Homo sapiens: one gene and its partners. The protein of the gene in region 2 interacts with the protein of the main gene of each other region in a biochemical or structural test. Each region holds a gene or a part of one and is shown on either strand. Other genes may lie near its edges.

Region 1 (7,033 bases), on a different chromosome or scaffold from region 2:
ATCTACTGTACATATCTGCCTGCGCAGAAGAACTGCAAAAATGTGGACAGAAGGAATCCTGAGCCTCTTCAGACCAGCAAATCCCACCACATGGCCACCAGGTGAACCAGCTGCAGGGTGGATGAGGACCCACCCACATCACAATTTCAAATGTTTCCAGTGTGTTCTTCCATGCACTCTTGAAGTCCTGGCCCAGGTGCACTTGTAACATTAGCATCAAGCAAATGAAGTCTGCAGTGCAAAACTGTATGAATCAAAGCCCCAGAAGCCACCCCACATGGTCACAGCTGCGGGTGTGGAAGAGCCCAGGTCTCCAAGGCCTGCAGGACAGTAGTGAAAGGAAAAGTCTGTTCCTAGGCCCCTAATCTTGAGTGAGGGCTCTGCTCACCCTCAGGGCAGGCTCCTTCCAGCTCCCAGGCCTGACGCCACCACACAGCATCCTCTTCTGCAACTTCACCCCTATTGGACAATCTGTCTCCTTCCTACTTTTCTTAGGGACCATAAAGGTGTCCACAAGGTAGGCCCTTCAACCAAACCTAAGTGTGGGTCAAACTTCCAAAAGACCTACTCAAACTGTCCAATGCCAAATTGGTCCCACTTCAGCCACAAAGCATCCTGATGGCGCTGCAGTTCCTTACATGGAAAAAGAAAGGAGGCATCCCAGGGACACTTGGGACAGAACCTACAGCACATAAACCAACATGTTAACTTAATATACTCTCTTGTTTCTCTTGGGGGCCAGTAAAAGCAAGTAACCACCAGAGCCACCTTATAGTCTCAGCTACTGTCCTGTGAAAGAGAGACCCTGCTCTAGAGCCTACTTCTAAGAGCTGTTTTGGAGCAGAAGCACCTCTGTTTTCAGCTAGTTTCCTTGCTGCAACAGCTGTCCAGGCAGCTGCAAGTGCTGCAATTGGCTGAAAATCCATTCCTGGACTGTCCCAGATCTGAGGGACATCATAGTAAAAAGACATTATTCCTCATCACCCCACCCTAAAAATCCTGGATAAAATGCAGATTCCTGGACCCACTCTGCAGGAATTCTCATTCAATGGGTTCTCCCTGGGGAACCTAAGATTCTGCAATATTTAACAAGCTTCCCACCTGAATCTCATCCAGGAGGCCCATGAACCCCACCTAGAGACCTTTGCAGCCTTATTCTCAGATGTGCCTCTTAATTTCTTGTTCTTGGGTACAAGCACATTTTAGGAGAAGAACAAAAATCTAATTCTAAAGGAATCTGGTAGTTAAAGTTTTAGCCATATAAATGTCTATCAGCATAAATATACATGTCGCACATCCCTCATTCACACTGAACAGCAGGAAGGGTAATCTAACATACTATACTGTGTATGTAAATTACTATATTATGTACCACATCTTCGGTAGATGAATGTACCTGAATTACATTCAAACTCTACAATCCTGTTCCAACTATTGATTCACATACCTGAAAAGTATGGAAGTAACAGAGTAGCTACTGAGTCCAATTTTTCTTTCAGTACATAAACAAGGCAACATATGCATTCTCTCAAGCCCAAGAGCACCAGAGATGTCCCCTCACCTTGATCTCCACAGACAGCGAGGGCCAGCCCTAAATATACTGTCACTGCCTGGACACACACAATGTATCATGACAGCACAACCCACAGCTGTCTGCAGAAACGTCTGAGTGATGTGCCTTCAACCTGTCATCAGACTGCAACGACCTCAATTTTTTGAGAAGTGAAGTCAAAACTCCACCCTTATCATCTTCAGAGATCCAAGACAAATTTATGTGTCAGCCCTTCCTTCACTGATCTTCAGCCTCGAGGAAAGTCTGAAAAGACCATCACAGGCTTCCGCTCTCTACCAATGTCCCCAAGGCCACTCCCATTTACACTGACCCTGTGACCACATCCCAGAGGTACCTGAGCACAGCGGCTGGCTAAGAAGAGTGGCCAGCAAGGAGAGGCAGGACATATTCCTTGACAGGCACCCAACTCTCCCCAGGGGGTACCCAAGACCTTCCCTTTCTCCAGACTCTGATCTTCCCACCCTACCCGCTGTCTTGACTCTTAGAGATGGCTGTCCAGTGGGCAGGGTGTGCTAGCTCAGAGGGTTTTGAAGCTGGGAGGACCTGAGAGATGACATCTACCAAGCCCCGCCCCCTTCCCAGAGATAGGCGAAGCAACTTGCACAGGGTCACCCAGCTATTGAGTGACTGGGTCTCCCAGTCCCTGGGGATAACTCCAAGGGGTTCGGGCTAATTATCTTTATATTGCAGCCATCCATCACTCTTGTGCTCTTCCTTAGCTTCTTCCAGAGGGAAACAGCCGGGAAGGATGGTATATATAAGAAAGTCTTCCTAACAGTTATCTGGGTAGTCCTCTGGCCCAACTTTCTACACCAGGGTCACCTTCATAGGCCGGTATTTAATGACTGGCTCTTAAGATGATTTCTTTTTTTATTTTTATTTTTTTGTAGAGACAGGGTATCGCTATGTTGCCCAGGCTGGCCTCGAACTCCTGAACTCCAGCAATCCTCCCACCTCAGCCTCCCCAAATCCTGGAATTACAGTGTTAAGATGGTCTTAACTAGCAAAGGACAAAGGACAAAGAAGCAGGAAGGGGAGCGGGGAGGCGGCACATCAGAGCCCTTTACCCTTCTCTACCTGGCAGTTACAGTTATTCTTCAAGACAAATTCAAATGGGAAGCCTTCCTTGGTCCCCAAAGCAGAGAGAGTTCAGTCCCACTGGATATGGTACATTGATGGTCACGATGGAATTATGTAAATGCATTTGTGTCCTCCCCCAGATAAAACTTGGTAAGTCTTCTTTCCCCTGCTCCTTAGGCCACTTGGTATGGTGAGCTGCAGATTCCCAGAGAATCAACAAATTAAGAGCTATTTTCTGGTCATCAAGGGTTGCTGCACTGCAAATATTTGCATACTAATCTCCCCATCTGAGGTTTAAAAATATGGACTTGCTTTTTTTAACTCCAACATAATGAATGAGTTTAAATATTAGAAGTTGAAATTATTAAGTAAATCATTTCACCTGCACAGCTTCTATTTGCATAACATTAATTCATGATGGCAGCTAAAACAAATTCGTCACATTCTATATATTAGAAGCTGATTTATGTAGGAATTGAAAAGAAATCATGAGCTCAAAATTACGTTGACATGATGTACGTGCTCAATGGAGAAAGATTTTTCTCTTTCCCTCTTTCCTTTTTTTTTAAAGTCATCCTAACAACTGAATTATGGTGAGATGGAAAAGGATTTGAGGAGAGAAAGGACTGGCACCTCGGAAAATGAATAATGCTACGGCCTCACGTGTGTGGCGGGCTCTCGGCGTGCGTACACACACACTCCAGTTATTAATGTCAAGTATGCCAAAGATACGCTGGAAAATCATTACCATTCATCGCCACTAACCGCCATTAAATTTCAATCAATTCAACTTAGCACAAGTGTACTTGAGCGGCCCTTACAGTTCCTTATAAATGTGGCTCAAAAGTCTGGCTGACTTACTGCATTGTCCAGCACACAAAGAAGCATTGCTAAGCGTCTGCTGAAGGGGCTATCTTGGACCCAGGGACGCTCTTTTAACATCAGGCATTCAAAGATCTTTTTTCTGAGCGCTAAGAGGTTTCGAATCCCTACAGGTCAAGACGAATGGAAGAGAGGACCGCCCTTCCTTTCCTGTCGCCGGGAGTGGACAAGGGCAGAAGGCGGCCTTAGTGATTACTGTCTGCAGATGCCTTACAGAAAAAGTTTCAGACGCCACCAAAAGTTTGGTCACGGGGCCTCTCTCTTCCCGGCTCCCGTGGAGTGCTCTCATTCACTTCGCCAGCTGTAAAGGCAACTGGAAGCCCCTCCTGGGGAAGCGGGCAAGAGGGCAGGCCAATGGGAAACGGGGTCGAGGAAGACCCGGGGCGCCCCTCGGAACCCGCGCCCTTCCCGGGTGGGAGCCGCTCGCGCGCTCCGGGCGCGGCTGTGGGGACCTGGCCCGTTGGCTTTCTTCCCGACTCGCCACGAGCAGAGTCCGGCCTCCCGCCACTCGCCGGCGGCGGCCGGTGTGCGGCTGCGACAATGTGGCCATTGTTTGGGAGCTGCAAACCAGGCCGGCGCGCAGGTGGGAGGGCCGCAGCCGCGGGCCCGGGGCGCTCGGGGCACGGAATGTCCCCCGGCCGCGGCACGGTCGGCGCCGCTCGGACACGCGGCCTCGCCAGCCAGCGCTCCGCGTGGCGGAAAAGCCGGCGCGGAGGGAGAGGAAGGTCCAGACGGCGGGGGCGGGGAGGAGGCGGAGGGAACGGGAGGGAAAGATGGGAAAAGATGAGAAAAGACAGAAAAGAGAGGGAGAGAGAAGGCGGAGGAAACGGAGGAGGGGGAAACGGAGGGAAAGAGAAGAAAGGAGAAGGGGAGAGAGAACGGAGAGGGAGAGAAAGGAGAGACCCAGAGAGAAGAGGGGGTGGGGGCAGGACAGAAGAGAGAGAAAGGGGAAGGAGAAAGAAAAAGACAGAAAGGACGGACGGATAGCTGAAGGGAGAGGAAGAGAGCCAAAGGAGGGGGACAGGCGGACATGTGTACAATAGAGGTGCACCACAAGCTGCCCAGGAAACCTCTGGGAAGAGCAAGAGTTCACCCTGTTTCCTAGAGGGAATGGCTCCAAACCCAGCCGAGTCAGCAAAGCGTAATCACATCAGGGGCTTTGCTTAATTACAGGTTTGGGCTGGGTCTGGAGGAAGGGAGATACTTAACTGTGTCCCAGGGAAGGCCCAGCACTCAAATGGTTTGTAAGTCTGGGAAATACAAACAACACCCCCCGCCCCACCTCCCCCAAGCCCACTGAGCCAGGACCCAGGAGGACATGGCGGGTAAGGGCTGCGGCGTGGTTGCATACAGGCTCAACCGGCACAGCCATCGCGGACAAGCTTTCAGAGTTCACTTGGGACAGGAGTGCAGGGCTGCGCCCGTGCTGCTCAGCCTGGAGGCCACAGGCCTGTGGAGTCCCCGCCTCAGCCTGCAGCCGGGCCACCCTCCCTCCTCCCTCTAGCTGCCTGCAGGAGGCCTGGGGCCCTCGGCTGCCCAAAGAGGGAATCAATCCCAATCCCGTGCTAATGAATAAAAAGTCCCCTTTATTTCACTGCTGTTTTTGGTTCATTAAATTTTCCACAGATTTGTAGAGAAGAAAACATAATCAATAAACCTTGACAAAAGTGAACGTGTGAAAAAGGCCAGAGAATGGAAAAGCGAGATAAAAGTGATATCCGATCACAGATTTCAGAGGCAGATGACGAGCTCGGGGCTGCAGAAGAATCTCAATGGACCATCACCCTTTTGCGGCTTTCCTTCCCTTTGCTGAACTCTTCATTCAAGACAATGGCAAACGCACTAAAACTTTTTTTCTTATGCTAATAGCTGAAACCCGGCACTCACAGTTAAAACACACTTCCCAGCAACCTGTTTTTTTTTTTTTAAACAACACACATGTGCAAGCACACACACAAAACATTATTCAATTTAAACCCAAATCCCCAAAACAGTTTAATAAGTACTCTTTGGTCACATCTTAAATGAGTTACTTTCCCCCATGTGTATGTTTTTTAAGAAACCAGAAACAACACAAACAGGATTATTGAGAATTACTGTGCTGATGAAAGAATTGGGGGAAAATAAGATATTAAATGCACAGAAAGTATACCGTTATCATCTGTGCATTTTCCCAGGTTTTAAATACAGTTTTGTGGGTTAAGGATGCTTTTGTCATCCTCTAAACCTAAAAATAATAATCAATGATTTTTTTTTTAATTCTTGATATTCCACAGCAAACCCTCAAATTAATTTCAGAGAAAATGATTAATGTTGAATCCGGTGTTGTGTGTTTATTTGAAAACCAGAAAAGTGTTGAAGGTGCCACTCTTTTTCAAAGGACACTCTCAAACATCAATGTCGGATGACCCTTTCTCAAATCTGTTAAACAAGCCTGAGGAAACAATTAGAGAGCAGTTTTTCCTCCCCGATTTCTTTAGAAGTGCAGGAGCAATTTCAGGAGCAACTGAAATCACTGTACATTCTGGTTGTTGGTACAATCACCTATTCTGCCTCTGAATTTTCTGGAATCTGAAAACACTGTTTCTCTCTTTGGCATTCTTCACGTGTTTCACTTGTCCATGCCTCTGACACTTAGTGAAAAGAAGAAAGGGGGGAAGTGCTCCCCCGGGTTCCTTTTCAAAGGGCCCTGGCCCAGCGGGAACAGCTGCAGCTGTCCACAGCGAGGTCCACCTGGCCTGGCTGCCCCTTGTCCACTAGGAAACAGGCTCTGGCCCAGGTAGAACCCCTTTCTCCTCCCCACAGCCTCCAAGAAGCAAGGCTGGTTTGCTCCACCTCCCTGCCGCAAGAGCCATGCAGATGAAAGGAAGCTGGGCTAAACACACTTTCCCCAGGAAAAGGCCAGCTGCCCTACCCAAAGAGTACACAAGGATGTAGGACTCCGATTCTAGGCTTTAACAAGCCAGCTGGGTGTGAGGGGGTCACACAAGCTTTCAAAGTGCACATGACAACCTCCTACTCCCATTTAAAGGGAACTGCTGGCATCTGTGGAGTGAAGTTTTCCCGTGGAGTACCCCCGGGGCAGGGGTGGGGGACAATGGAAGAAGGGTGTTTATTAGGCAAATATCCAATTTTGTCTGCCTGCCTGCTGAATCCCTGGTTTGCTAATCCAGCCCCAGGGGCTGCACTGTGTACAGGGCACTTGTGGGAGTACAAAAAGCGTGAAGTATTTGTGTATTTTTCAGTCTGCAGTGCAAACAAGCCAGCTACAGTACACAGCCCCCAAGACCCCCGCAGCCAGGCAATGAGCCACTGACCAGAAGCCCTGCGGCCCCCTCTTCTGACCAAGCAACTCAAAGGATTGACTCTGCATTCGGTGCTCTCTCCACCAGTGGACCAGAGCATCCCTGGGAGAGTGAAGTGGCACTCCACTCCAAGGCTGCCTGGCCACAAGGGCCTCGCTAACTCCACACAAGCTTCAAGGAAGCCACGAGTCAA
Region 2 (7,000 bases):
CTGTGGATGGTCACTGTTAATTGGGATTTTTGTAAATAGTAATCTAGTTTTCCATTCATTTATCACCATCATTGTTGACACCCAGTTGTAACTGGCCTTTTTCATGTCACACCGGCCACAGTGGCCTTCCCTGGTAGCCTCTCAGCCTCATCACTGACTAGATAATGATCTCAACCCAATACCATCCTGCTCAGAGAGGAGCCCTCTGATGCTACAAACCCCTTTCTCCACCTGAAGAAATACATCCGGATTTTTGATGATTAGCTTTTTCCAAAGCTCAGCCCACAGAAGCAGAAAGCTGGGCCATGAGATTAGATAATGAGGCCTAAATGACTTTTGTTGCTTCTGTCTCCACATGGGACAGATGGCAAACTTCCATCTGGCCCTGATCCTGTGTCCAGTATCAGGTCAGGAGAGAAGCTGGGACTGGGCAGGGGTGTTTTTGGGGGGCCTGGAATGACAGCTTGTCATACTGTCTGCCATCTTCCATTCACCCAGGGCCTGGCACGGAGAAGGGGGTGAGATATTTTTCAAACAAATGAATAAAAGCTACCTCCTCCATGAAGCCTCCCTGATCTCCCCACCTCATCTGAGTCAGGCTTGTGCTCTCCCTTGAACTTACACTTTATTCTGTTTCGCCCTTTCTGGTGGCACCAAACATGATCTCCCCCCGACATGGGGGATTCAGGGCAACTTCCCAGAAGATAGCTTAAGAATAGAGGATGAATTCATTGTCCTAAAGAACTGGATGGGCCAGGCACGGTGGCTCATGCTTGTAATACCAGCACTTTGGGAGGCCAAGGCAGGTGGATCACGAGGTTGGGAGTTCAAGACCAGCCTGTCCAAGATGGCGAAACCTCGTCTCTACTAAAAATACAAAAAAATTAGCTGGGCATGGTGGCACATGCCCGTAATCCCAGCTACTCAGGAGGCTGAGGTAGAGAATTTCTTAAACCGGGGAGGCAGAGGTTGTAGTGAGCCAAGATTGCACCACTGCACTCCAGCCTGGGTGACAGAGCGAGACTCTGTCTCAAAAAAAAAAAAAAAAAAAAAGAAAAGAAAAAAAAAAGAACTGGATGAAGAATGTTTCCAAAAGAGGAAAGAAGAAACAGGGCATGCAAACACTTGGGGGGTGGGAAGAAGGGATTCTGGATTTTGCTTCCAGAAGCTTCCACTCTGTACCGACCCTTCTTTGCGAAATTAATCCAGCCCCAGGCTCCTTCCTTCCTTCTGCCCTGACATCATAGCGTGGGCTGGCAAAGCAACAGGAAAGCCATCAGGAGGAATCAGACAACACTTGGGGGCAGGTGCCAAGGGCTTCTGTCTCATCAGCTGTGACCCATTTCCTCCTCACTAATGGAATCCCACAACATGATGAAAAATGACTGGGTAGGTCACAACAATCCTACCTCTTTCCCATTTTCCTAGCCTCCCTTGCAGCTATGGGCAGCCAGGTAGCTGGGGTTGGCCAGCTGGACCCATGAAAAGTCTGCTGGGGACTTCTGGGGAAGCTTTTGGTTTTGGATAAAAGGAACAGAGATGGAACGTTCTACTCCTTCCCACCGTCAATGCAGATGCAATGTCCACAGCAGCCATCCTGCGAGCGTGAGGCTGAAAGTCAACACATGGAAGATGATCTGGCAATCTGCTACCCTAGGCCCAAGAGGTCTGAAGTGATAACAGGTGCCATTATTGTGCAAATACTATGTGCTAGGCTCAGGGAGAGAGGCTGACACGTCCCCATTATCTCACTTAATCCTCAAGACCACCTCCTGAGATGGGTATTATACCCATTCTACTGACAAGGTCAGGTGCCCTGTGCTAAGAAGTAATTTTAGGCAGATCTATCTGACTCTGAAGCCCATGGAAATTCTACCATGCCAAACTGCTAGGCAGGCAGAGCACAGAGGTCTTGAGGGACCAAGGCTGCTAAACACAAAGGAACATTCCACACAGGGCAGCCTAGGGCCTTCTTATCAACAGGCCAGGTCCCCACCTCCTGCCCCTGAGGCCTCACCCAGGAAAGTTCTCCATCCAGCTCCTGATCCTGGGGGCTCAGTGTCCACAACAGCATTTTCTAGCCCAAGACGTGCTCATCACAGGTGGAACAGGACACGATTTACAGGCAATATCCAGACACGGTGGTAAAATACATCAGTGATATCTGGAAGGAAAGTGATTTGCCGTTCCACTTCCTTCAAGCCTTCTGATCGCATCAAGGAGAAAGACAGTCTCTAGCATACCTTGAACTCCTTTCTACTTTGCTAGTCTCTCTTCTCAAGAGTGGGCAGGCCTCTGACTTACAGCTTAAAATCATTCCATTTTCATTTGTGTTTTTTCTTTTAACTTAAACCAAGCCAGATTTATTGACTTCAAAGGCAAATTTATAAAAAGTTAACATGTTTTGGTCTATTCTAAATCATGAAAGATTGACATTACTAGCATAATAACAATTGCTAGTTGTACAATTAATTTGGCCCTCATACTGCGTGCTAATACAGCAAATATTCATAGGATTCTATACATTTCAGAATGAAAGCTCTCCCTCTGCTGCCTTGTGTGGATGGTAAGAGGACAAACAGGTAATACTGAAAAACAAGCGCACCTGCTCTGCCCAATTCGTTCCCACTCACGCACCCTCTGACTTCATTCCAAAGTCCCGTTATTTATCTAACAATTTGTTTATACTGTATAAAAGCCTTGTTGTTTATACAGACAGCTGACTTAAAATGATGGCTTGGGTCTTTTTAAATCATAGATCAAAAAGTAGAACAACTATAGTTAACACTGCTTGTGCTTGGACTGCCCGAAACCAAAACCAAAATGGCAGAAGGAGGACACAAAATCAGCTACATTTCCTCTGCAGGGTGTCTGAGGAGGTAATCAATGGAGGAGTGGAATGGATTTAAGGAATTAATCTTCAACATGCAGAAATAAGTACTTCAATGCAGAAAACTGCCATCAACAGTTAAAATGAGGAATATTTAAAGGTGGATTAGGAACGGGGGTGGCACCTATGCCAGGAAAGTCAAGTTAGGTTTCCACTTGCTCTATTAACATAAAATTTGCATTTTTGACAAATCTACTTAAGCTCTTTAAAAGAGCCAAGTTAAGGAAAAATATTACATAGGGCCGGGCTCGGTGGCTCACCTCTGTAATCCTAGCACTTTGGGAGGCTGAGGCGGGCGGATCACGAGGTCAGGAGTTCAAGACCATCCTGGCCAACATGGCAAAACTCCGTCTCCACTAAAAATACAAAAATGAGCCGGGTGTGGTGGTGGGCACCTGTAGTCCCAGCTACTTGGGAGGCCAAGGCAGGAGACTCACTTGAACCCAGGCAGCAGAGGTTGCAGTGAGCCGTGACCGCACCACTGCACTCCAGCCTGGGCAACAGACTTCATTTCCAAAAAGAAGAAAATACTACATAGCAGTTCGGAGCCCTCCCATCTGCTAAGAGCTGAGCTCACCACACCTTCAGGACACACTGTGGGCATCAGCCTCAGGAAGGAATTTTTTCAGGTTTTGTTCTCCTTTGTCCCTGATCCCTATTTCCATTCCTCCATGCCCCCATGCCCCTATGGGTAGTCTCTATGGCATGTCTTTCTAGATATATTTGTTTTTTATTATAATTATGGTAAAACATACATAACCTGAAATTTATTATTTTAACCACTTTTAAGTACACAGTTCAGTGGCCTTAAGTACATTCACACAACAGTGCAACCCTCGCCCCCACCCATCCCAAAGCTTTTAATCATCCCAAACTGAAACTCCCATACCCATTTTTTTTCTTCCGTGTACTTATGATGAATCTCTACTCATTAAACACTAACTCCCCATCCCCTTGCCCCCAGTCTCTGGCGACCACCTTTCTACTTTTCTGTCTCTAATGAATTTGACTACTCTAGGTACCTCTTATAAATGAAATGCATTTGTCTTTTTAAAAAATACAGACTTGTAAGTATGCATGCATTTTAAGTTTGCATAATACTATTCTATAGATATTCTGGATATTTTTTTCCCTTTACTCCACACTATTTAAGAGCTACCCCTGCTTACAAATGTCTCGCAGGTGGGCTACCTCCATCTGCAGGTGATGGAACCTTGGGCTAGCTCCAGCGCACCAGTGGTCCCAGATGTAATTATTGGGGGACCTGGGGACAAGGGGATTCTCGCTTTGGCCCTTCAAGTCCCCACCTGGCACCTCCAGAATGACCCAAGTCCGCCGAAGTTGGTCCCCTGCCACTCCCCACTAGCAGGGCTCTGGCCACACCCCTGGCAAGACCAGAGACTCAAGCTCCCGGAAGAACCCCAGGCACACCCTCAATTTACTAGCCCATAAATCAGGCATGATGCTTGACCTGGCTGACTCTCATTCGTGATTGCTTTTAAAACCATGGCTGAAAATTTCTAGGATGTTATGGAGAAAGGACAGGCCACATCTGACAATGTCCTGTCAGACCTAATTAGGCCACCTAAAAGGACTTTAGCCCTTTAATTGCTGGTTTGCAAATAGATGCTAATTAATTAAGTCAGATAGCACTGTGGCTTGGAAACAGATTTAGCAGCTTGCGTGGAGGAATATATTTCAAAGTGAGAAAAGGATGTTCTTCAATCACTGCTTTTCCCCAGTAACCCTGGGAACTAGCAGAAAGCGCAAGGACGTGGGCTTTGTGTTCAGACTGGCTTTGAGTCTTTGGTGGGAGCCAGCACTACAGCTGTCTGCTGGTCCTTCCTCCTACATCCCTGGAACGCCAGCTGAGATTAAAGAGCCAGGGTATAAAACTCCCACCATGACGCTGGAGAGGTTGCCCCTGATACCCCATCCCTAATCCATGTACCGAGCCCCACCTCCAAATTTAGGGAAAGTACGAGTCCCCACTGTCTTCTGGTTTTCCCTCCCAAGCCTCTGTATGTACCTGAAACCTGCCCACATTACCTAAGGACTCCTCAAGCAGCCCGCAGCCATGGGCCCAGCACTATGGACTGCTCCAGGGGCTGGAAGGAAATATCCCTTCAGATGTGTACTCAGGGGTATGATATGTGACATATGTATGCATGCAGTGCTCAACATTGTTTTCTTTTTCTTTTTTTTTTTTTTCTGAGATGGGATCTCACTGTGTTGCCCAGGCTGGTCTCAAACTCCTGGGCTCAAGCAATCCTCCCACCTTGGCCTCCCAAAATGCTGGGATTACAGGTATGAGTGCCTGGCCTCAGAGTTTTTGTATTGATGAGGTGAGCGATGATAATCGTTTGGAAGCCATGGATTTGGGGGCAGCCGAGTGCCCTGAGTTTCCTGTGGCTGCTGTAACAAAGGAGCACAAACTTAGTGTCTCAAAACAACACAAATGTGCGATCTGACAGTGCTGGAGGCCACAAGTCCGAAAGGAGTGTTGCTGGCCTAAAGCAAGATGGCGACAGAGTGGTGTTCCTTCTGTGGGCTCTAGAGGAGAATCTATTTTCTTGTCTTCCGTTTCTAGAGGCTCCCGGGTTTCCCGGCTTACACACCGGCCCCCACCCTCCCCATCACTCTGCCTTGCTCTCATAAGGACACTTGTGATTACGTCATCGCGCCTACCTGGATAACTCAGTATCCTTAACGGAATCCCACCTGCCAAGTCCCTCTCGCCACGGTAACATAGTCACAGGTTGTGGGGATTAGGACGTGGACATCATTGGGGCCATTGTTCAGCCTGCTACATGTCCCTTCTCTGCTGCTCCACTAAGAAAAGTGACAAGACCCTGCACTGAGGCTTCCCCCCCGGGTCAGTTATTAGCTGGCTTTGCAGAGACCCTGACCTGGGCCCGGGCCTTCCCTCTTATCTTATGCCTAGACTCATACAGCATCCTCCCAACAGGCCCTCAGATCTTCCTCTCCGGGCCTGACCTCTCCCTAGAGCTCTGACTCCACAGCCACTCCTGCTCAGAAGTCTGAGAACATTACTGAATTAGCGTGTCCCTGACTGCTCTCCTGCCCACCTCGCCCCCCACCCCCGACAGGCTTCTCCAGCTCCCCATCCAAGCAGAGCTGATGCCAAGACCCAGAAGTGCTTCTCCACTCCTCTCTCCCCGACCTCCCCATTGGTCCAAGCTGCCATCATCTCCCCCCAGGGAGGCTGCACCAACATCTGCCCAAGGACCTCCTGGTTTCCACTCCTGCCCCCATCCCAGCCCATTCTCCACAAGCAGCCAATACAAGCTGCTTAACCAGCAAGGGCACGCCCTTCCCCCATGCCCTCCAGTGGACTCCCTCACTTAGGCCAAGACTCAATCTTTTGACAACGACCTCCCATGTCTGACCCCATGTGGCCCTCTCTGTGTTCCTTCACAAGACACACTCTCACCCCAGGGCCTTTGCACGGCTGCTCCTTTGACCTGGATTCTTCCTCTGCCTTTCCCAAGATGCAGGTGGCATCACCTCCTCAGAGAGGCCTTCCCATGCCCCACCCCATCCCTCTCACCTTTATTTCTTCATGGCATGATCTCATAGGCTCGCCTGTTTACCCGCATGCTGCCCGGCTCCCTCCACTGGAATGCCAATTCCATGGGGGCAGGGACTTTGTCTGCCTGTCAGTGCTGGCTCCTCAGTGCCTGGCACACAGCCATGCTCCAGAAATGTATACGGAGTGTTATGGGTTGAACTGTGTCCCCCCACCAAAATTCATATGTTGAATACCTAATCCTTGGTACCTTAGAATGGGATCTTATTTGGAAATAGGGTCATTGCAGATGTAATTAGCTGAGATGAGGTCATACTGGAGTAGGGTGGGCCTCTAATTCAATACGACTGGTGTCCTTATAAAAAGAGGAAATTAGGACACAGACCGGCATACAGGAAGAACACCACGTGAAGATCAAAGTTCTGCAACCACAAGCCAAGGAGCTACCAGAAGCTTGGAGGGAGGCCTGGAACAGAACCTTCCCTAGCGCCTTCAGAGGGAGCATGGCCCTGCTGACACCTTGATCTGGAGCTTCCAGCCTCCAGCACTGTAAGAATCCA
Region 3 (7,033 bases), on a different chromosome or scaffold from region 2:
GCCCTGTGGCTTACTGGTCTGTGAGCTTGGCTTCCTTGCAAGACCTCATTTCCCTCATTTTTTGAATTAGTGACCATCTTGATTTAAATTAGTGGTGGCAGGAGGTTTAGCATCTCAGGTGCAAACTGATTGATTAGTAGTGTCTACCCAGGGAACTGTATGAATACAATTGTGCAGGGCTCAATTATTGATGTCTGCCCTGGGTTCAGAATTGGAGAATTGTGGTGAGTCAATCATTTATCATCTTTGGGCAAAATTTCTCAATCTTTCTCTCTGAATCAGAATTTCTGAGAGCGGAGGCCAGGATTTATACTTGCAGCAAGTTACATAAATTATTTTGCGGCCAGCAGCTTGGTACTATCCACAGATTGGAGTTTGGGAACCATGAGAATAAATGTCTTTTTTTCTTTTTTGAGATGGAGTCTCACTCTTGTTGCCCAGGCTGGAGTGCAGTAGTGCGATCTAGGCTCACTGCAATCTCCGCCTCCCAGGTTCAAGTGATTCTCCTGCCTCAGCCTTAGGAGTAGCTGGGATTACAGGTGTGCACCACCACGCCCGGCTAATTGTTGTGTTTTTAGTGGAGACAGGGTTTCACCACATTGGCCAGGCTGATCTTGAACTGCTGACCTTAGGTGATCCGCCTGTCTTGGCCTCCCAAAGTGCTAGGATTACAGGCATGAGCCACTGCGGCCGGCCTGAAAATAAATGTCTTTTAAGGGACTTTCCAGTTCCGAGTTCTGTGATGCTAGAATAGGGTGGAAAGGTACATTGAGGCAGAATTGGGCAGCTGAATCCATTCATGAATCCGTGAATGCAGCTGAGGAATGGATGGAAAGAGAAAGCGCTGTCCGGGTGGAGGGTGGGGGAAGGCACACCCGAGGCAGCCTGCCTGGACCCCCCACCCATCTCAGGAAGGCAGCCCCCGACCACCCTGCCTCTCTTAGAACCGCCACGAGATGCTGGCTGTGGAGCCCATCAATGAACTGCTGCGGGACAAGTGGCGCAAGTTCGGGGCCGTCTCCTTCTACATCAACGTGGTCTCCTACCTGTGTGCCATGGTCATCTTCACTCTCACCGCCTACTACCAGCCGCTGGAGGGCACAGTGAGTGCCCGGGGACCGGGCAGGGGCTGGGGCAGGCACTGGGCTGAGCCATGCAGGACTGGGGCACAACCTCATCCTTCTGGGTCCCCTGTAGGGGGACCCGGAGAAGGTTTAGGAACAGGTTGGGGAGGCGCCCTCCAGCATCCACGGGTGGCCCTGAGCTGGGAGGAGGAAGACTCAGGAGGAAGAGAGTGAAGGAGGAGGCTCCATGGGATGCCGATGTTTCGGGCCTGGGGGAACATCTGGATTGGGGGCCAGATGTTGGAGGGGCTGGGTGACGACCTGTGTGCCCTTGCTGCTCCCCAGCCGCCGTACCCTTACCGCACCACGGTGGACTACCTGCGGCTGGCTGGCGAGGTCATTACGCTCTTCACTGGGGTCCTGTTCTTCTTCACCAACGTAAGTGCCTGGCCCCCGTGCCCCCCACCCTGCCTGCCCTCCTCTTCTCTTCCTGCACCTCTTTTCTCTCCCTCTTTTTCTCTTCTCTCTCCTCCAAATGGTCCTTCTCCTTTCCTTCCTCCTTTTATTTTCCCATTTCTCTTCTACCTCCTCCAATCCCACGTTCTCCATCTCTGCTTTTTTCTCCTTTTCTAACAGGAAAGAGTCCTTTGTCTTTTCTCTGTACCAGCCTCTGCCTCCCTCTCTTCTATCCCTTTCTCTGTCTCCTCTCTCCTCCTCTCCTCTCCTGCTGGCCCCACCCCTTTCACGTGCCCCCTCCTGTCTTCCAGATCAAAGACTTGTTCATGAAGAAATGCCCTGGAGTGAATTCTCTCTTCATTGATGGCTCCTTCCAGCTGCTCTAGTGAGTAGAGGTCCCTGGGCCGGCAGCTTCTGGGTGAGGAAGGTGGGTTTGGGCTGCTAGGTCGTCCAGATTCAGGAGAGAGGTGATTCTGTTAGAAATGAATGCACCCAACCTGGGCAGCTCTAACCCAAAGTCAGGACAAAGCCACAAACAATAGGGTCTTCTGGTTCAAGAAAAATTCTGATTGCTAGGGAGTTATCATATACAACATGGATAGAAATAATTTTAACCTCTTATGCTGGTGAATGATTGCTAATGTCTGCCTGAAGTGCCATGTTAAGAATTTTGCACCTGTGTCTGTGTTTAGTGGGAAAGAGTTGGGATTGATTAATGATGTCTGCCTGGGACAGAGAATGAGAGAGTTACTGAGTGTGTGTTACCTCTTTCACATTTCCCTTAGAGTTGGAGAATGATGAAATTCACTTAGCCACAAAATCTCCACTGAACACCACTAAATCTTTCTTTAGCAATTCCAAGGGGCATCACTTCAGGATCCTGTGGGACCTCAGGATTAATTGCCAGCTAATTGAATGTTCTTGTTAACAGAATGCTGGGGAACCCTGCTAATCCACTTTGTTTCTTTTCTGGGGGTCTAGAAGGCATTGGGAAGTCCTGATACCCTGGAGGGCTTGGAGGCGTGTCTTCCCCTCCAGAGCCTCATTGTCCCCTCTCCCCTCTGGCCTCTCTTGTGGTCTCTGCTGCACTGCAGCTTCATCTACTCTGTCCTGGTGATCGTCTCAGCAGCCCTCTACCTGGCAGGGATCGAGGCCTACCTGGCCGTGATGGTCTTTGCCCTGGTCCTGGGCTGGATGAATGCCCTTTACTTCACCCGTGGGCTGAAGCTGACGGGGACCTATAGCATCATGATCCAGAAGGTACGGGCTGGGAGGACCCTCTGGACTCGTGTGTTCCTGGAGGGAGTCACACACACACCACATGCACACTTATGCACCTGCAGACCTGAGGATGCTGGGTACCGTGGGGGCAGGAGGCATGGTCTGGACACTGGGGTGGGACCAGGGTGGAGATGGAGGAATGGGGAAAGTGAGAAACCATGTGTCTCCTCTTTGCCTCCATAATCCCGCTGGGGTCTTTAGATTCTCTTCAAGGACCTTTTCCGATTCCTGCTCGTCTACTTGCTCTTCATGATCGGCTACGCTTCAGGTGAGCTCTGGGTGCTCAGGTGGTCCTGGCAGGGGTGGTGCAAGGACGGGAACAGTAGCCATGATGTATAGGGGACAATAGCAGCCTTGCTGAGTTCTTTTTTTTTTTTTTTTTTTTTTGAGGTGGAGTTTTGCTCCTGTTGCCCGGGCTGGAGTGCAATGGCACAATCTCAGCTCACTGTAACCTCCACCTCCCAGGTTCAAGTAATTCTGCCTCAGCCTCCCACGTAGTTGGGATTACGGGCTCCTGCCACCACGCCCCACTATTTTTTAATTTTTTTTTTTTTGTATTTTTAGTAGAGATGGGGTTTCACCATGTTGGCCATGCTGGTCTTGAACTCCTGACCTCAGGTGATCCACCCTCCTTGGCCTCCCAAAATGGTGGGATTACAGGTGTGAGCCAACGCGCCTGGCCACTGAGTTCTTATTTGTGTGCCAGGCACCAGACTAAGTACGTTTCCATCCTTGCCTCCCAACAAGCCTGTAAGCTAAGTGCCTTTATTATCCCCTATTATAGAAAAGGAAACTGAGGCTTAGGAGGGTTAAATAACTAGCACAAGTTCAAAAGCCAGTGAATGGTGGCCGGGCGCAGTGGCTCACATCTGTAATCCCAGCACTTCAGGAGGCTGAGGCGGGTAGATCACTTGAGGTCAGGAGTTTGAGACCAGCCTGGCCAACATGGCAAAACCCCGTCTCTACCAAAAAATACAAAAATTAGACAGGCATGGTGGCGCGCAACTATAGACCCAGCTACTCGGGAGGCTGAGGCACAAGAATCGCTTGAACCCAGGGGGTGGAGGTTGCAGTAAGCCAAGATGGCACCACTGCACTCCAGCCTGGGCAACACAGCGAGACTCTGTCTCAAAAAAAAAAAAAAAAAAAAAGCTGGTGAATGGCAAAACTGGAGTATTAGCTATTGCTACAAAGGAAGCCACCTAAAGTGGGGCTTAAAATAGCACCCACTTATTATTATTATTTTTTTTGTGGCAAGGTCTCACTCTGTCACCAAGGCTGGAGGGCAGTGGTGCTCTTGGCTCACTGCAATCTCTGCCTCCTGGGTTCAAGCGATTCTCTTGCCTCAGCCTCTCGAATAGCTGGGATTACAGGCGTGTGCCACCACGCATGGCTAAGTTTTATATTTTTGGTAGAGATGGGGTTTCACTATGTTGGCCAGGCTGGTCTCGAACTCCTGACCCCAAGTGATCCACCCACCTTGGCCTCCCAAAGTGCTGGGATTACAGGCGTGAGCCACTGTACCAGGCCAACTTACTATTGCTTATGAGTCAATGGGTCAGCTGGGTGGCTGTGCTGCCCTGGGCCAGGTTTGGCTGATCCCTACAGGCTCTTGTGCCTGTGGTCAGCTGGCAGGCTGGCTGCTGGCTGACTGGTCTAGCTAGTATGGACTTGGTTAGAGGGGGTTTGCTATCTATCTTCCACATGGTCACTCATTTCTGGACAGCTAGCTTGGGCTTGTCCACATGGTGGCCTTAGGGTTCCAAGAACATGAGCAGAAGTGTTCAAGGACACCTCCTGGCATGGCATCACTGCTGCCTTACTCTGTTGGCCAAAGCAAGTCACAAGGCCAGCCTCGATTCAAGGGATGGGGAAATAGACGCCACTTCTTTTTTTCCATTTTTTTTTTTTGGTGGAGGCAGGGTCTTGCTATGTTGCCCAGGCTGGTCTTGAACTCCTGGGCTCAAGCAGTCCTCCTGCCTCAGCCTCCCAAAGTGCAGGATTATAGGCGCGAGCCACTGCACCTGGCCTAGACTCCACTTCTTAGTGGGAGAAGCTGTAAAGCCACATTGAAGGAGGATGGATACATGGAAGGATAAAATTTAATAATTAAACTAGCAGCCCAGGTATTTTCTTAAAGCCCAACATCAGCTCCCTTGATATACCTTCTTCGTGATGTCATGATGCCACTAAGAAGCATTCTGGGACCTCAGTGGCATGGGTCATGGGAGAAGGACCAGGGACCAGGGCTGGAGAAACTGACCAAGTCCTTGGGCTGATCCCCGAGGTGTGGGTAATCTGACATCAATGCCCAGCATCCAAAGGGGAATGGCCAACTCAGGTTAGACCTGGACACATACACATCTGAGCAGGTTCATCTGGGGACGAGCCTGGCACAGGAATCTGACAAGGGTGATATTTTAACCCACGATAGTGGCCAAGTCTCTAGGTAGATTATTGGTGGGAAGTGGAATTGTAGTTTTCACTGGGGAGATAGGGACAGGGTACAGCTTTCCCTTCCCAGGGATCACACTGGACAAACTAGACAGTGTCAAGGGTTCAACAACAGTTTGGGATTCAGGTCAGGGATCTAGCCCTACTGCAGTCCTAGTTATTGAAACTAAGGAGAAACAAGGGTTAGAGTAGCAGCTTAGCAGTCAGCTTGGTTGCAGGTCTTCTCCTTATAGGATGCACTAGATCTCAATTCTGAGGCTGACATGACATAAACAGGACACACATGCTTCTGTTCCCACACTTTGGTGTCCATAGCAGACATCACTAATGGATCACAGAACAGTTTTTCCGGTGAGTCCAGACAAGGTCTCAGAATCCTTCTCAACACAGTGTTTCACCAGGTACTATACAACTGAAGAACATTAGCATATGAGTTGAAATCTGCATACTCTAATCCCTGGTTGCAGGCAGTATGACATTCTGTGCCCCACTGACTGATGGGACTGAGTCTTCTTCATGCTCCCCTCCCTGGCTGGTTTAGGGACAGGTTGTTGCTGCCAAACTGTGTTGAGAAGGAATCTGAAGCTCCACCTGGGCTTAGTAGGAAAGGAGAACCATGATGAGTTTGAGATGTCTAGAGCAGGAGAGGCCCCTTAGAGAACACGGCTTTGGGGACAGTCAGGACTGATGCCTGGTTTCAGCCCCCACTTTTCCTCTCTGGGTTGGGGTGGAGTGGGAAACTGTCAGAGAGAGAGTCTACCCCTGCGAATAGGGGCATTCCAGAGCCCCCAAGACCTCTAAGAATGGTAGGCCGCATTAGGATTTCCCAACACTATTGACATTTGAGACCAGATCATTCTTCGTGGCGGGGACCATCCTGTGCATTGTAGGGTGTCAGGCAGCACCCCTGGCCTCCACCCACCTGATGCCAGTAGCACCCCCACCCCCAGTTGTAACAACCAAATATGTCTCTAGACATTGTCAAATGTCCCCTGGTGGGAAAAACTGAGACCCTCCCTGGACTAGATCCTGAAAACCTTTTCCCTCCCGGTAGCAGGGAACCACCAGGTTGTGTAAGGAGGGGTGAACTGTCCCAGGTTGGAAACAGAGCAGGTCAAAACTCCTACGCTTATCAGTAGTGGGATTGAGCCTGTGAGTAGCCACTGCACTCCAGCCTGGGCAACATAGCAAGACCCCATCTCAGAAAGAAAGAGAGAGAGAGAGAGATAACCTCTTCCTTATCAGCAAGAGTTTATGGAAAGGCTTCAAAGGTTTTGGGATCAGGAGGACCTGGGTCTGGTGTGGCTTGGCTGATGTGTAGGGTGACATGGGTCAGCGTGTGGGCCAGCGTGCTCCGCTCACTAGGCCTCAGCTTTCTCCTCCAGCAAATGAGAATGACACCCTCCACCTCTCTGTGGGTGTGCTCACACTCAGTGAGTGCCACCCCTATCCTCCCACAGCCCTGGTCTCCCTCCTGAACCCGTGTGCCAACATGAAGGTGTGCAATGAGGACCAGACCAACTGCACAGTGCCCACTTACCCCTCGTGCCGTGACAGCGAGACCTTCAGCACCTTCCTCCTGGACCTGTTTAAGCTGACCATCGGCATGGGCGACCTGGAGATGCTGAGCAGCACCAAGTACCCCGTGGTCTTCATCATCCTGCTGGTGACCTACATCATCCTCACCTTTGTGCTGCTCCTCAACATGCTCATTGCCCTCATGGGCGAGACAGTGGGCCAGGTCTCCAAGGAGAGCAAGCACATCTGGAAGCTGCAGG
Region 4 (7,033 bases), on a different chromosome or scaffold from region 2:
GGTTGGGCTTCCGGTGACATAATGCTCCCCTTTTGGCTCAGGGTGGCTCCTTGGCCTCACTAGCAAAGACCGCTCAGAGCTGAATACGGTGTGCCCTGGAGAGCTGCACAAGGATTAAGGAAAAAGCTGAGTGTAACTAAAGCTCTTTGGGGTAATGGAAAAATTACCTTAATAACCAGGTATCCAGGTGACAGCTGCTCTAGAGATTCCACTGTTATGTCTCTTTAAACCTGTGATTTACTAACATTCCACTATTCTATACAAGAACCTGGTCCCTCCCCTTTTGGGAGCGGGGAAGGGACACCAAATTAAACATACCTAAAAGACCTGGGAGGATATATACTGAAATTTTAATAGGACGTCATTGGGGTGGTAGGATTACAGAAAAAAAAAAATCCTCTTTATTAACAAATTTACTGATATAAATATAAAAATACTTTTATAGTAAGAAATTATGTGTACCTCTTTTGGAAATATTTATATGCATCCTATAAAATTGTTGGGAGGAAGTAAATGAAATGTGAAGACACCAATTCCATTAATCAATTGCTGCTCTATGCACTTCAAGAATAATCTGCTTTTAAAAGGTGGCAGAGAAAAGACGCATGTCTCAAGTTCTGTACACTGGGTTGTGATTAAAAAAAAAAAACGATACAAGTCTTAGGCCCTACATCACAAATGTACTGCAGAACAGTTTCAACGGCTTAAGAAGGTCAACCTTAATACATTCAGAACCTCAAAGCAAAAAAAAAAAAAAAAAAGTCCACAGGATAATCCCATGCCTCAAACCTGTTAGTTACATGCCCAAATCCAGCAAACTAGTTTGTTCTCAAGCTTTACAGTAAAAGCTTTTGACAATGTTCTGGTACAGAAGGGCTGCCTCCAAGTCCACGAGATGCCATTAGCAGATAAAATTATATTGGCCTCAAACACAAACCCTATTTCAACTATCTCAAATTAAATCTGATGCCTATAAGCTCTAATTTTTTGCCAATAAGTACAAAAATGACAAATGAAAATTTCTATAGTGGATTTACGCATTAGCAGTCAAAAAAAGCTTGCTTGTCAGCAAGTTCATCCAGACTCCAGATCTCATGTGTCCTTCATGCTCTCTACCCAGCCAGAGACCTCATATCTCATGCCCAGGTCTTTCCTCAGGCTCTGACCTGAAGCCTCCCTTGCAGGGAGGGCCAGAGCTCTCCTGCCTTCTCCAAAATCCTCCACAAGCCTCTTCCCAGCACAAACTGCCCATCCCACCAACCACGTACCTAGAGTTGTATGTAAAACACTCACTGGACTCCCCTGGCTCCAGGAGAGCAGCCCAGCCTTGGTTTCTCAGGGCGGACTTCTGGGAAAGACTCCTCTCCCTCATGCCAGCTGCCTGGACAGTGCCTGCCAGGACATGTGGCCCCACCCATGCCAGTCTGACTCACTATTGCATCCTCCTCCTAGGAAGGCACAGACATGCAGAGCCAACCTCCAGCCAGCAGTGGAAGCCTGGCGTATCCACTGATAGCAGCACACACCATGCCCAGGTCCAGGAGCCTTATTCTTGAGCCCGAGCCCCTGCAGTAAGATCTTCCTCAGAGCCATGTCTCCTCTGTGAGAAAGGAGACACCATCTCTAAGAGGCCTTAGTCTGGAGTGACAGGTTGGAACAGGCACAATCACAGCTCAGCTCCAAGTGCCCTATTCTCCCTTTCCTTTCTCATCTCAGACAGCTCCTGGCTTTTTATATTAGTTTCCTTTGTGTCAGACACAATTTTTTGGCCATTCTTCAGAAACCAGGAGACAAAAATCATAAAAAATACCCAACACTCCTCCCTCCAACTTTTTTTTTTTCTTTTTTTTTTTTTTCAGACAGGGTTTCACTCTGTCACCCAGGCTGGAGTGCAGTGGTGTGATTATATTATATTATAGCTCACTGCACCCTCAAACGATCCTCCAGCCTCAGCATCCCAAGTAGCTGGGACTACAGGCACGAACCACACCCAACTCCCATGCTCCACTTCTTAGGGCCAGGACTGTTGTTGGGTTGTGCTGGGAAAGATTCACGCTTCACTCCACCAATTCTTCCACAAAGGACCAAATCATTCTGCCCTAATAAAATAGCCTGGCCCGTGAGTCTGCATCTGCCTAAGTCATTTTTCCTTTGTACCAATTATGCTCCGATACCAACCTCATCACATAGATCAACTATAAAATGATGGCACCTGATGCTCACTTTCTCCCTCCAACGTTGCCAGTAGGTACCCAAGATTGTGTTCCTTCCTGTGACGTCAGTTTGCTACCTACACCTCCAAGCCATCATGAAGGCGTTTCGATCCACAACTCTTCCGAACACCTGCATCCGTTAGAAAGTCTGCATCATGATACGCTGGCATTCAGGTCAGCCTGCTCTCTAGTTCTCTTCCTCAACAATGGAAATGGAGTTTCTAAGATTTGCCCTAATCAAACTAGGCCAGCAACATGATCAAAATGGGTGACGGGCCAGCAGAACCTAGTAAGGTCTGGAATAGGCACTGTTCATCTTCATCTATAGTTAAGGGTAATGACAATAATGTATTTGCATATGGGTGCAGGATACAGAGGATAAGATATCTTCTAGCTAAGAGACCTGGGTCTTAAGCCCACACTTTAACCCCAGGAGGCCCCACAGCAGAAAGCAGTATGGTGTTACCAGGCTACACAGAACAAAATGAGCCCACTTGTAGGTTCTAGTAAAATTCCCTGGCTTTAAAAAAAAAAAAAAAATCTTGGCTCTTTTATTTCTTCGGGGCTGAAAGTAAATGACTTGTCAACAGGAACCTAAGGTCCTATTTCCAACTAGAGTGTGGAATAGGGAAGAGCAGCTGATGCTAAATGGGCCTACTTCCCTCAAAGACCACTCAACTTCAGGTGAAGAAGCCCTAAGTCAGAGACCCCTCAATGTCCTCAGATGCCGAGGATTTCCTGGTTCCATCCCAGCTGCTCAGTGCAGAGAACTGGTTTCAGCCTGAAGGAGGTGGTTTGGGGGAAGCATTAGTTGTCCTGGGACATGGTGCCTCCTTACTAGGATTAAAAGTAGGGCGGTGTTTCTGGGTATGATATCCACACTCTAAAATCAGCAAGGGACCTGGGACCCTGATTTAGGGTCCTCTTAAGTGCAACTAAGGTGGGTGATGGCCTCAGCAAAGTGAGGCACTGGCTCAACATTTACTGGAAGGGCTGCCCTGCATTCTAGTCGGGGGGATAAAGGAGGAAAGGCAGTGCCAACTCTCCAAGAGCACTGAACTAGTTACTATGACTGGTCTTCCTACGGCAGCCTTTATAGGTTTGCTTCTATGTTACGAATTAAAGAAAAAAAAGTTTTAACATCTGCCTCTCTACCACCCAGAACTGACCATTAACACTGAGCCATGGCTGGCTGTGTTGGCTCACGCCTGTAATCCCAACAGTTTGAAAGGCTGAGGCGGGCAGATCACTTGAGGCTAAGAGTTCGAGACCAGCCTGGCTAATATGGTGAAACACCATCACTACTAAACATACAAAAATTAGCCAGGCGCGCACCTGTAATCCCAGCTACTTGGGTGGCTGAGACACAGAATTGCTTGAATCCAGGAAGTGGAGGCTGCAGTGAACGGAGATCGCACCACTGCCCTCCAGCCCGGGCAACAGAGTGAAAAACTCTGTCTCAGAAAAAAAGGAAAAAAAAAAAAACACAAATAAAGGCTGAGCTGTATTTTCTTTAATTTCTTTTTTCTTTTTTTTTTTTTTTTTGAGATGGAGTCTCGCTCTGTTGCCCAGGCTGGAGTGCACTGGCGCGATCTCAGCTCACTGCAAGCTCCACCTCCCAGGTTCAGGCCATTCTCCTGCCTCAGCCTCCTGAGTAGCTGGGACTACAGGCGCCCGCCACCAGGCCCGGCTAATTTTTTTTTTTTTTTTTTTTTGTATTTTTAGTACAGACGGGGTTTCACCGTGTTAGCCAGGATGGTCTCAATCTCCTGACCTCGTGATCCGCCCACCTCAGCTTCCCAAAGTGCTGGGATTACAGGCATGAGCCACTGTGCCCGGCCCTCTTTACTTTCTAAAAACAAAAACAAGAATTTTAATTTTATACAGTTCATTTTTTCTCCATCCCCAAGCTCCTCCAACCCTTTCCACCTCCATCTTAAACTTTTTTTTCTATTTTATTTATTTAAATAGAGATGGGAATCTTGCGATGTTGCCCAGGCTGGTCTCGACCTCCTGGCCTCAAGTGATCCTCCTGCATCAGCCTCTCAAAGTGCTGGGATTACAGGTGTGAGCCACTGCTCCCAGCCACATCATGCATTTTGACACCCAATCACTGTCATGAACTCTATATCCTTCCAGTTCACTGAAGTCTATGTACAGTGTATCTATGTCTATACTGAACCCTATAATATTGTGGTTTTCTTAATGCCCTAAGTGGTATACTGTATATATCACTGAGTAACTTGTTTTTCACTCAGCAGCACATTTAAGATCCATCCAGTGGGTATATGGATCTAGCTAATTCATTTAAGCTGTTACACTAGTCCACTGTACAACAGACCATTTTATTTATGGACTGTCTTACTGGTGGCCACTCTCCCTCCCCGTTAAACTAAGTTTCTTCTATTAATCAATACTCTTGTAGTACATGTCTCCCTGTACTGTGTGAGTTTCTATATATCCAGAAATTGAAGTCTTAGGTCATGGAGTATGTTTATTTCTATTTTTACTAAATAAGGCTGAATTGCTCTCCAAAGTGGCTATATCAATGAACGCTGAGTTGCTGCCTTCCACACCTTTTTCCACACTTGGTACTGCCAGACTTTTTAAATGTTTGCCCATCGGTGACATTTGTTTTTCTGCTCATCTAATGTTAATAACCAAAGAGGGATACCCAGATAGTTTCAACGTTTACAACATCTCTATTTCCCTGCTTAACTCAATCAAATCTCCTCTGAAATGGCATGGTGGACACAGTGTGTCTTATGTGCCCTGACTGACTCCACTGATGGGCAGTTCTTTTTCGTTCATGGCCAAGGGAGATATCAGTTGTTTAAAATTGAAGAAACATGGCCAGGCGCGGTGGCTGATGCCTGTAATCCCAGCACTTTGGGAGGCCAAGACAGGTGGATCACGAGGTCAGCAGACTGAGACCATCCTGGCTAACACAGTGAAACCCCGTCTCTACTAAAAAATACAAAAAAAATCAGCCAGGCGTGGTTGCGGTTGCCTGTAGTCCCAGCTACTCAGGAGGCTGAGGCAGGAGAATGGCATGAACCCGGGAGGCGGAGCTTGCAGTGAGCTGAGATTGCACCACTGCACTCCAGCCTGGGTCATGGTGCGAGACTCCGTCTCAAAAAAATAAAATAAAATAAAATAAAATAAAAAATGAAGAAACATTATCTGCAAGTAAACTGAAGATGTTTGGAAGGGATAGGACTCCCTTCAGAGAATCTTGACTGCAGTATTCAGCCAGCAGCTGTGCTGGTCCACAGTGTGAAATGCTAGGACTGGCAACCTCACTGCCCTTGAATAACTGGTCTTGGCATCTCTCCCACTGCAGCCCCAGCCTGCTTCCAAGACTGCTTGCTGGCATGAGGAAAGAGGCTTAGGGCTCCCCAGGAGCTTTGTCTATGGACAGAAGTGGGGGAGGTGAGTCTCAGAGGCCACCGAAGGTACTGCAGCCGGCTTGTTCCCTCCTACGTGCAGACAAGCACAAACCACTGCAGGGGCGGGGCTTCACCGCACTGCATGGTAGGGGCCCTAAAGCACCCAACTCCTGAGCTGAGCAGTCATACCAAGAGGCAGGAAGGCCCAGCAGATGCTGCACATCACCCTCCACCACTCACCCAGGCTCACCTTCCCCCAACAGCTTCTTTAACAAAGTCCCAAGTATTTAAATTACTCAATTATCCAGTCTGCCCCTTGGTAAAAAAATGCAAGCTCCCCGCAAGTATGGTGGTATCAAAAATGGTCTTCATATATCTGGTTGTTTAGCTCTATTCCCATCTGTATCAGAACTGATGCTTAAAGGGACAACTTAAAATCCTTAAGACCTCATACCAAATAAACCAATCTCACGAAGACCCTTGAAGATGCAATAAAACTCTGCTCACAGGGTCAACGCATTCTTGTGTTATACCAGCTAATTGAGATTTGACTGTGGACTTTTGGAGTGATTCAGAAAGAAGGGTAATGTCAAATGAGTCATTTTCCTCTACTCCGGTCTCAGTCTTAGCTCTTGGCCAAGATAACACATCCTGACTTGCCTTCATAAAAGCTGAAGCAGGCCAGGTGCAGTGGCTCACGCCCGTAATCCCGGCACTTTGGGAGGCCGAGGCCGGTGGATCACCTAAGTCAGGAGTTCAAGACCAGCCTGGCCAACATGGTGAAACCCCATCTCTACTAAAAATACAAAAATATTAGCTGGGCGTGGTGCAAGTGCCTGTAATTCCAGCTACTTCGGGAGGCTGAGGCAGGAGAATTGCTTGAACCCAGGAGGTGGAGGTTGCAGTGAGCCGAGATCACACCATTGCACTCCAGACTGGGCAACAAGAGCAAAACTATCTCAAAAAAAAAAAAAAAAAAAAAAAAAAAAAACAAAAAACTGAAGCAAAATAAACTAAAACCCAAGTAAAGTGAGTTTGTAATGTAAGTGCTGCATTTTCTTCTACCTTCCTGCCCACGGCCGTTTCCTCATTTCTTCCATTGCCTCAATATTAAGAAATAAACAGCTTTAGGAAATAAAATGGTTTTTCCTGTGACCCCACATCAGTGTCACAACATTCAAGGCACAGAAGCAACTCCCATAAAGTGCTAGCTGTTTAGAGTCACCGCCACCAAATTTGCTAAGTCACTGGGGGTACGGTTCTTAAAGAGCTAATGATGCTCTTTGCTAAAATATGAATACAACATTATTTCTAATGCAATGCTTAAAATGAAAGCAGTTGTGCTAGACAGGAGACCAACATCCATACATTTTGGCTCAAGTCAGTAACTGAGAAATGAGTTCAAGAACCTTCTTTAAGTCATCATTAATC

Evidence for each region.
Region 1: of the proteins of OTUB2 (region 2) and GLI2, one has a biochemical effect on the other in vitro, tested with the Homo sapiens proteins (one study listed by BioGRID).
Region 3: the proteins of OTUB2 (region 2) and TRPV4 interact in a test that uses a peptide from one of them, tested with the Homo sapiens proteins (one study listed by BioGRID).
Region 4: the proteins of OTUB2 (region 2) and PKM form a complex in vitro, tested with the Homo sapiens proteins (one study listed by BioGRID).

What each region holds. Positions count from the first base shown.
Region 1 is NC_000002.12:120,738,867-120,745,899, reverse strand, and holds part of GLI2 (zinc finger protein GLI2), read right to left. Parts: intron 1-7,033. UniProt on the Homo sapiens protein: Functions as a transcription regulator in the hedgehog (Hh) pathway. Functions as a transcriptional activator. May also function as transcriptional repressor. Requires STK36 for full transcriptional activator activity.
Region 2 is NC_000014.9:94,029,340-94,036,339, reverse strand, and holds part of OTUB2 (ubiquitin thioesterase OTUB2), read right to left. Parts: intron 1-7,000. UniProt on the Homo sapiens protein: Hydrolase that can remove conjugated ubiquitin from proteins in vitro and may therefore play an important regulatory role at the level of protein turnover by preventing degradation.
Region 3 is NC_000012.12:109,788,399-109,795,431, reverse strand, and holds part of TRPV4 (transient receptor potential cation channel subfamily V member 4), read left to right. Parts: intron 1-944; coding exon 945-1,103; intron 1,104-1,409; coding exon 1,410-1,502; intron 1,503-1,831; coding exon 1,832-1,905; intron 1,906-2,614; coding exon 2,615-2,780; intron 2,781-3,002; coding exon 3,003-3,069; intron 3,070-6,689; coding exon of another isoform or gene 6,690-6,715; coding exon 6,716-7,032; intron 7,033-7,033. UniProt on the Homo sapiens protein: Non-selective calcium permeant cation channel involved in osmotic sensitivity and mechanosensitivity. Activation by exposure to hypotonicity within the physiological range exhibits an outward rectification.
Region 4 is NC_000015.10:72,221,182-72,228,214, forward strand, and holds part of PKM (pyruvate kinase PKM), read right to left. Parts: intron 1,391-7,033; exon of another isoform or gene 1,373-1,390; coding exon of another isoform or gene 1,269-1,372; intron 104-1,268; coding exon of another isoform or gene 1-103. UniProt on the Homo sapiens protein: Catalyzes the final rate-limiting step of glycolysis by mediating the transfer of a phosphoryl group from phosphoenolpyruvate (PEP) to ADP, generating ATP.